Linked DNA regions of Homo sapiens. The protein of the gene in region 2 purifies or fractionates together with the protein of the main gene of each other region. This does not show direct contact. Each region holds a gene or a part of one and is shown on either strand. Other genes may lie near its edges.

What was found. Proteins that work in one complex are often made in the same cells at the same time.
Region 1: the proteins of DHTKD1 (region 2) and UNC45B purify together in Homo sapiens (affinity purification with mass spectrometry; one large-scale study listed by BioGRID and IntAct). This does not show direct contact.

Annotation. Positions count from the first base shown.
Region 1 is NC_000017.11:35,163,883-35,168,978, reverse strand, and holds part of UNC45B (protein unc-45 homolog B), read right to left. Parts: intron 4,985-5,096; coding exon 4,813-4,984; intron 919-4,812; coding exon 618-918; intron 1-617. UniProt on the Homo sapiens protein: Acts as a co-chaperone for HSP90 and is required for proper folding of the myosin motor domain. Plays a role in sarcomere formation during muscle cell development. Is necessary for normal early lens development.
Region 2 is NC_000010.11:12,092,954-12,096,453, forward strand, and holds part of DHTKD1 (2-oxoadipate dehydrogenase complex component E1), read left to right. Parts: intron 1-1,119; coding exon 1,120-1,318; intron 1,319-3,500. UniProt on the Homo sapiens protein: 2-oxoadipate dehydrogenase (E1a) component of the 2-oxoadipate dehydrogenase complex (OADHC). Participates in the first step, rate limiting for the overall conversion of 2-oxoadipate (alpha-ketoadipate) to glutaryl-CoA and CO(2) catalyzed by the whole OADHC.

The DNA of each region.
Region 1 (5,096 bases), on a different chromosome or scaffold from region 2:
TCCCAGCACTTTGGGAGGCCCAGGGGGGTGGATCACCTGAGGTCAGGAGTTCAGGACCAGCCTGGCCAACATGGCGAAACCCCGTCTCTATTAAAAATACAAAAATTAGCTGAGTGTGGTGGCACACGTCTGTAATTCCAGCTACTCTGGGGGCTGAGGCACAAGAGTCACCTGAACCTGGGAGGCGGAGGTTGCAGTGAGCTGAGATTTCGCTGCTACACTCCAGCCTAGGTGACAGAGTGAGACTCCATCTCAAAAAAACAAAAAGTAAAATGAAAGTGGAAAAAAAATACCTTATAGAAACTGATTAAGGAAAGTGACTCTTCAGAATTTGCTCTGAAAATGCATTCTGGACACAAGCTCCTCAGTGTTCATGTTGTTCATAAGCAGGGAGACGAACGTCCTCAGGGTTAAGCAGCAGAGTTCACGGTTCTGAATCTACATCCTCACAAGCCCCCTGGATATTGCCCTGTTCTGCAGGGGTCTGTGGCTGGGTCTGGTGCCCCCTTGAACCTGGTCTCCTCAAGGACAGCAGCCTCAACTCATTCATTTTGGTGTCCCTGGTGCCTGGCATGGCACCTTGTACTGAGTAGGAGGGTGGTACCGAGCCCACTCACCACCAGTGTGCGGATCTTGATCTTCTCATTTTTGGTGGTCTTGTAGATCTGTTTGAGCAGTGACACTCCATTGGTGATGATGAAGGTGGCGCGGCTGAGCTTCGTGGAGGCATGGATGAGGGCCTCCACGGCCACCAGCTGGTCCGTCTCGCGCTCTGAGCCACATAGTGCCACCATCATCTCCATCACACCTTTCAGTCCCAGCAGCTGGTTGCCCAGGTCAAAGGGGCCCTGCAGGATCCCTGACACTGTCTGGATGGCATTCAAGTTCTTGTCCATGTCCTGGGGGTCAAACTTGCCCCTAAAACAAAGGACAAGGGTGGTCAAGAGAACTGGTCCAAGAGAGTGGAAAGAGTGTGAGATTTGGAGGCAGTAGGATTTGGATTTGCATCCTGGCTCCACCACTCATGTGCTGTGTGATATTGGGCAATTCAGCGAACCTCTCTGAGCCTCAGCTCCTGTAAACTGAGGATAGTACTACTAGTTCTCAGAGTTGTGGTGAGGATAAATGACATAACAGCTGTGTCACAGAGTGTGCCTCTGGGAAATACACTCTGACTCAGGGATTGACATGCAGGAAGTTTATTAGAGAGAGCTCTTGGGAAGAGAAGGAAGCAGGACTGGGGCAGAGGGAGGCATTTTGCAGCTATCACAAAGCCTCAGCCTCCAAGAAGTTCTGGAGCTGGAAGACCCTTCACAGTTGTTCCAAGTTAGAGTGAGTCTTTTTCTTTCTTTTTTTTTTTTTTGAGACTGAGTCTTGCTCTGTTGCTGGAGTGCACTGGTGCCATCATAGCTCACTGTGACCTCAAACCCCTAAGCTCAAGCAATCCTCCCACCTCAGCCTCCTGAGCAGTTGAGACTACAGGTGCACACAATCATGCTCAGACAATTGTTTAAATTTTTTTGTAGAGATGGGATCTTGCTATGTTGCCCAAGCTGATCTCAAACTCCTGGCCTCAGATGATCTTTCCACCTGGCCTCCCAAAGCACTGGTATTATAGGTCTGAGTCACCTCAACTAGCCTGGTGTGAGTGTTTGCATACTGGCTTCCCTGGGAAGGGTGAAACAGCTCTCCCCAGGTGAGACAAGTCCCAAAGAGAGATAACAGCTGAGAGCTGTCAGCTGACAGCCTTTCCAGCAGCTGCTGTGTCTGGGAGGACAGTACAGCATTGACAACAACACAAAAAGGCCTAGCGTGATGCCCGGCACACTGTGTCTCTCTGTGACATGGCCTGGGCCAGTCACTCCCCTCTGGTGATCTGGTCTTAGTCCCTTCCCCTGTTGGTGAGCATGTGGGCTAGATATCCAGGAACGTTCTGCCTTGCTTTCAGAATCTATTATCATCTACTCTAGGGGAGAATCTCTGCGTGGGAATGTCAGAGGTGACATGCCTTCTGATGCTTCTCATCTGCCCAGGTTGGTGCATTGTGGGAAACAGGGCAGATGTGCACAGTGGAAATGCAGCTGTGTATAAATGCAAGAAGGCAGCGTGGACTGGTCAGGAGAACTCCACACCAAGAGTCCAAGACCTGGGCTCTGGTCCCATGTCTGCCTCTGATTGCTGGAGGATCTCAGGCAAGTTCCCCTGGGGAAGAGGACTCAGCTTTGGAAGCTCTGACAGCCCCTCCAGCTTGAGCATCCCATGTCCTGTGCCTCATCTCTCCACTCAGTGCCCAGGGAACCAGCATCCTTCGTAATTAGTTGCGGTCTGACCTTTGAGCTGGCACTGGGTCCCCACACAGCCCCCGCCCCTGATGAAGCGGGATGTATTCCACTCTTGCTAGGGGCAGGCTGGGGCACCATTTGATGAAGGCAGTGACCCCTCCTCTCAGCATTCCACAGGCTGACAGGAGGGAGCCTCAATCAACAAGCCCAAACAAGAACTAGCTGGATGACAGGTAATGGGAGTCAGTTGGGGACCTCATGAGGGACTCAAGAAGTCAGCAGGAAAAGTTGAAACTGAGGTAGAGAAAGACAGAAGCCTTGAAAAGACCTAAGTGAACCAAAGTCAGGGTGAGCAGAAGCCGTGGGGTAGAGAAGGAGTTGGCAAATCCAGGGAGTTGAGAATAGCTTTCACATTATTTTATTTTATTTGAGACGGGGTCTCACGCTCTTGCCCAGGCTGGAGTGCAGTAGTGCATTCAAGGCTCATTGCAGCCTTGACCTCCTGGGCTCAAGTGATCCTCCTACCTCAGCTTCCCAAGTAGCTGAGACTACAGGGGTGTGCCACCACACTTGACTCATTTTTAATTTTTTTTTTTTTTTTTTTTTTTTTAGAGATGAGGGTCTCTCTACATTGCCTGGGTTGGTCTCAAACTCCTGGTCTCAGGCAATTCTCCCACATCGGCCTCCCAAAATGCTAGGATTACAGGCATGAGCCACCACACCTGGCCAGCAGCTTTTTGCCTTTCTTTTTTCTTTTTGAGATGGAGACTTGCTCTGTCACCCAGGCTGGAGTGCAGTGGTGCGATCTTGGCTCACTACAACCTCTACCTCCTGGGTTCAAGCGATTCTTCTGCCTCAGCCTCCCTAGTAGCTGAGATTACAGGCATGTGCCACCATACTCGGCTAATTTTTGGTATTTTTAGTAGAGATGGGGTTTCACCATGTTGGTCAGGCTGGTCTTGAACTCCTGACCTCAGGTGATCCGCGCTCCTCGGCATCCCAAAGTGCTGGGATTACAGGCGTGAGCCACTGTGCCCAGCCAGCTTTTTGCATTTTAAAGGATTTTTAAAAATATGTTGACAGAGACTTATCTGTCCCACAAATACTAAAATATTTACTCTCTGGCCCTTCATAGAAAAAGTTTGTTGACCCCTGGAATATAGAAAGGAAAAGCAGAGTAAAGGCAACGTCTTCACCCACCTAAGACTCACCTGGAGTGCTTTTAAGCATGCAGCTTCCTGAGCCACACCCCAAACTACCGAGTCAAGAGGGGATGTCTCAGAAATCTGAATAATTTACAAGTCTGGGAATCACTGCAATAAAGAATTAAAAGGTCATGCACTGGAGTCACACTGATGCTGGAGCACCAGTGAGGAGACTCAGGAACTGCAGCTGCTGAGGGTCCTAACCCCTGTCTAGCTCTGCAAAGCCACATGAGTCTTAGTCTTGAAAGAACCGGGCCTCCCTCCTTGACAAGCTGACATGTGTTCCTTTCAACCACAGAAGCCAGTGGTAGGTATAAAATATGTCCATGGCTGGGCAAGGTAGTTGATGCCTGTAATCCCGGCACTTTGGGAGGCAGAGGCAGGAAGATTGCTTGAGCTTGGGAGTTCAATACCAGCCTGGGAAACATAGCAAAACAAAAAATACAAAAATTAGCCAGGCGTGGTAGTGCACACTTATAGTCTCAGCTACTTGGGAGGCTGAGGCAGAGGCAGGAGGATCGCTTGAGCCCAGCAGGCTGAGGCTGCAGTGAGTCATGATCATGCCACTGCACTCCAGCCCGGGTGACAGAAAAAAAAAAAAATTAGCCCAGCATGGTGGCAAGTGCCTGTAGTCCCAGCTACCCTGGGAGGCTGAGGTAGGAGGATTACATGAGCCCAAAAGTTCGAGGCTGCAGTGAGCTATGATTGTGTCACTGCACTCCAGCGTGGGGAACAGAGTGAGACTCTGTCTCAAAAAATAAATAAAATAAAATATGTCCAAAAATATGTTGACACCCCTGCCTTCAAAAGCTGAAACCTAATTTCTTCCCCTTAAACATAGGTCAAACTTACTGACTTGCTTCTAACGAATAGAATGTGGCGGAAGTGATGACATGTGTCTTCTGAGGCTAGATAGAGAAGACATCTCCCTGCTGCCTTGCTCTGTCTTGGCTCTCTTACTGTGGCATGCCAGCGGCATGCAGTGAAGACGCTTCAGCAGGCTGCAGAGAGGTCTGCAGGGAGAGGAACCAAGGCCTCCCACCAACAGCCAGCACCAGTGTGCCAGCTGTGTGAGTCCACCATCTTGGAAGCATTTTCCAGCCCCAGTCAAGCCTCCAGATGGCTGCAGCCCCAGCCAGCATATGACTGTAACTTCATGAAAGACCATAAGCCAGAGCCACCCAGCCAAACCACTCCCAAATTTCTGTTCTGGTGTGAGATAATAAAACACTATTGTTTGAGCTGCTAAATTTTGAGATAATTTGTTACACAGCCATAGATAACCAAGACAGAGCCTGACCCTGTGAGGCCTCCAGGAAACTTACGTGATATATTCCTCACAGATCTTGCGGAAGTGATCGCGCTCCGGGTCACAGCGCAGGTCATCATAGAGCTTGTTGATGAGGATAGAGGCCAGCATGCGGGTGTTGTCAGTCAGGGGCAGGCAGGATGGCAGATCTGGAACCTGCCCCACAACCTTCAGGATCTTCCTCAGACCTGCAGGGTAGACAGTGGCAAGCCTAAGATTCCTGCTGGGCTCCATCCTCACACACACCCCTCACTCAGTGACTTGTTATCATCAGCTTCTCTCCAGCCCTGTCTGTAGAAA
Region 2 (3,500 bases):
TGCAGCCTTGACATCCCTGGCTCAAGAGATCCTCCCTCCTCAGCCTCCTTAGTAGCTGCGATTTACAGACACATGCCACCATGCACAGCTAATTTTTTTTTTTTTTTGAGATGGAGTTTCGCTCTTGTTGCCCACGCTGCAGTGCAATGGCGCCATCTCGGTTCACCACAACTTGCACCTCCCGGGTTCAAGCAATTCTCCTGCCTCAGCCTCCCGAGTAGCTGGGACTACAGGTGTCCACCACCACACCCAGCTAAATTTTGTGTTTTTAGTAGAGACGGGGTTTCACCATGTTGGTCAGGCTGGTCTCAAACTCCTGACCTCAGGTAATTCACCTGCCTCAGCCTCCCAGAGTGCTGGGATTATAGGCGTGAGCCACTGCACCTGGCCACAGCTAATTTTTAAAATAATTTTTGTAGAGATTGAGTCACTGTGTTGCCCAGGCTGGTCTTGAACCTCTGGTCTTGTGTGATCCCTCTTCAGCCTTCCAAACTGCTGAGATTACAGGCGTGAACCACTGTGCCAGGCTGAAATTGGTCATCTTAAGATAAAGACAGTGCTGTTATTACCCATTCCCAGTTTCACAGTTTACAAGGCTGTTTGATGGTAGCAACTATTCTCCTTTTATACAAACAGCCTGGACTGGATGCCTCTTGGGCTTGTCTATGTGAATCCTTTATGATTAGTCTGATGAAGATTCTTTGGAGCAAATTTATCTTTTTCTAAGGTACATCCTTTAATGACCCTTTTATCTCAGGGAGAAAGAGAGTAATGATAATAACAGTAACAAAATAAATATTAACTACTATGTACCAGGCACTGTTAGGCATTACAATTGTTTGTGCATTCACTCATCGAACCTTTGCAACATCACTAAGAGGTAGGAGCCCCATTCCCGATTTATAGATAAGTAGGTTGAGATTTGTAGCTTTACCGAGGTCACACAATAAGTCCCAGAGTTGGAACTTGCCAGCTGGTCTCCAAAGCTGGGGTTGTTAACCAAACCAATATCTACCTGTGAGGATTGGGCTGTCTTTTGATGCAGGAAGTAGGGCTTAGAGAGGGCCAGTGTCATTCTGGGTTAACTGTCCTGTTTCGGCTTGGTCTTCTGTCCTTCAGGGAAGCTTGTGGGCTGTGCCATCATCCATGTCAATGGAGACAGCCCAGAGGAAGTGGTCCGTGCCACACGACTGGCTTTTGAATACCAACGCCAGTTCCGCAAGGATGTGATTATTGATCTGTTGTGCTACAGGCAGTGGGGCCACAATGAGCTGGATGAGCCATTCTACACCAACCCCATCATGTACAAAATCATCAGGTACAATTATAAACCCTTGTGTGATATGCCCCCTAAAAATTAAAATTACTATTATTATTCTTTTGAGATGGAGTCTTGCTTTGTCACCCAGTCTGGAATGCAGTAGCACGATCTTGGCTCACTGCCATCTCCACCTCCCGGGTTCAAATGATCCTCCTGCCTCAAGTGATCCTCTTGCCTCAACCTCCCGAGTAGCTGGGATTACAGGCGTGTGCCACCGTGCCTGGCTAGTTTTCATACTTTTTAGTAGAGATGGAGTTTTGCCATGTTGGCCAGGCTGATGTCAAACTCCTGACCTCAGGTGATCTGCCTGCCTCGCCCTCCCAAAGTGCTGGGATTACAGGCATGAGCCACCATGCCCAGGCAGGACATGAAACTTTAAGAGCTAAAGCTGACACAGTTCTGGGCTGGAGTGCAGGTGGCACAGTCTTGGCTCACTGCAACCTCTGCCTCCTGGGTTCAAGCAATTGCAATTCTTGTGCCTCAGCTTCCTGAGTAGCTGGGATTACAGGTATGCATCACCACGCCTGGCTAATCTTTGTATTTTTAGTACAGACAGGGGTTTCGCCATGTTGGCTAGGCTGGTCTCAAACTCCCGGTCTCAAGTGATCCACCTGCCTTAGCCTCCCAAAGTGCTAGGATTACAGGCATGAGCCACCGTGCCTGGCCTCCCATACTCTTCACACTTGACATGGTTCCTCATTGAATAGAAAAAGGGCAATAGAAAACTCAGCAGATGGGAAGATTGAAGCAGGGGGAATTAAGCAAACCTCGCCCAAATCTATTTACTGCAGTGTCGGCAGGACCAGAAATAGAACCTCAGTGATTCATTTCTACAAACCATAGCTGCAGACCTGCCTGGCACCTTGGTGAGAGGTAACTCAGAAGATTCTAATGAATGTTCAGAACCATGCTGTCCAAGATGGAAGCCACTAGCCATCAGTGGCTATTGAGTACTTGAAAAGTGGCCAGTCCTGATTAATGTGCTGTAAGGATAATACACACACCATATTTCAAACACTTAGCATGTAAAATATAAACCCAAAATAATATTTTTAAATTTATTAGATATGGAAATGACAATATAATGAGTATATTGACTTAAATAAAATATGTTATTGAAATGCCGGGCATGGTGGCTTATGCCTGTAATCCCAGCACTTTGGGAGGCCAAGGTGGGTGGATCACTTGAGGTCAGGAGTTTGAGACCGGCCTGGCCAACATGGTGAAACCCCATCTCTACTAAAAATAGAAAAATTTGGCCAGGCGCGGTGGCTCACGCCTGTAATCCCAGCACTTTGGGAGGCCGAGGCGGGCGGATCACGAGGTCAGGAGATCGAGACCATCCTGACTAACACGGTGAAACCGCGTCTCTACTAAAAATACAAAAAATTAGCCGGGCGTGGTGGCGGGCGCCTGTAGTCCCAGCTACTCGGGAGGCTGAGGCAGGAGAATGGCGTGAACCCGGGAGGCGGAGCTTGCAGTGAGCCCAGATCGCACCACTGCACTCCAGCCTGGGTGGCATAGCGAGACTCCGTCTCAAAAAAAAAAAAAAAAAAAAAGAAAAGAAAAGAAAAGAAAAAGAAAAATTAGCTGGCGTTGTGGCGCGTGCCTGTAGTCCCAGCTACTCGGGAGGCTGAGGCAACAGAATCGCTTGAACTGGGGAGGCGGAGGTTGCAGTGAGCTGAGATTGTGCCACTGCATTCCAGCCTGGGCGACAGAGCGAGACTCGGTCTCAAAGAAAAAACAAGAAGAAAAGAAATTAATTTCACCTGTTTCTTTTTATCTTTTCTAACGTGACTGCCAGAAAATTTTAAATTACTCATGGCTTGCATTTCATTTCTGTCCCATGGTGCTGATTCAGATGGTTAATGTGACGGAGGGGGAATTTGTTACTTTGGAACTTCCTTTTCTAGATACTAGAAAATAAAATAGATTCCCCTCCTCCAAGTTTATTTCCTTATAGATATAAATTAAAGCAGAGGAATACACGTTTTATGAGCGTTTCTGATCCTTGGTACCAGAAAGAGGACTGCTCTCAGAAGAACTAATTGTGTTCTGTTTAGCTCTGAATTTAGCAGCTGAATGACTCAGTGAACCTCAGGGTTCTATTTTATTTTATTTATTTTTTTGAGACACGGTCTTGCTCTGTCGCCCAGGCTGTAGTGCAGTGGTATGATCA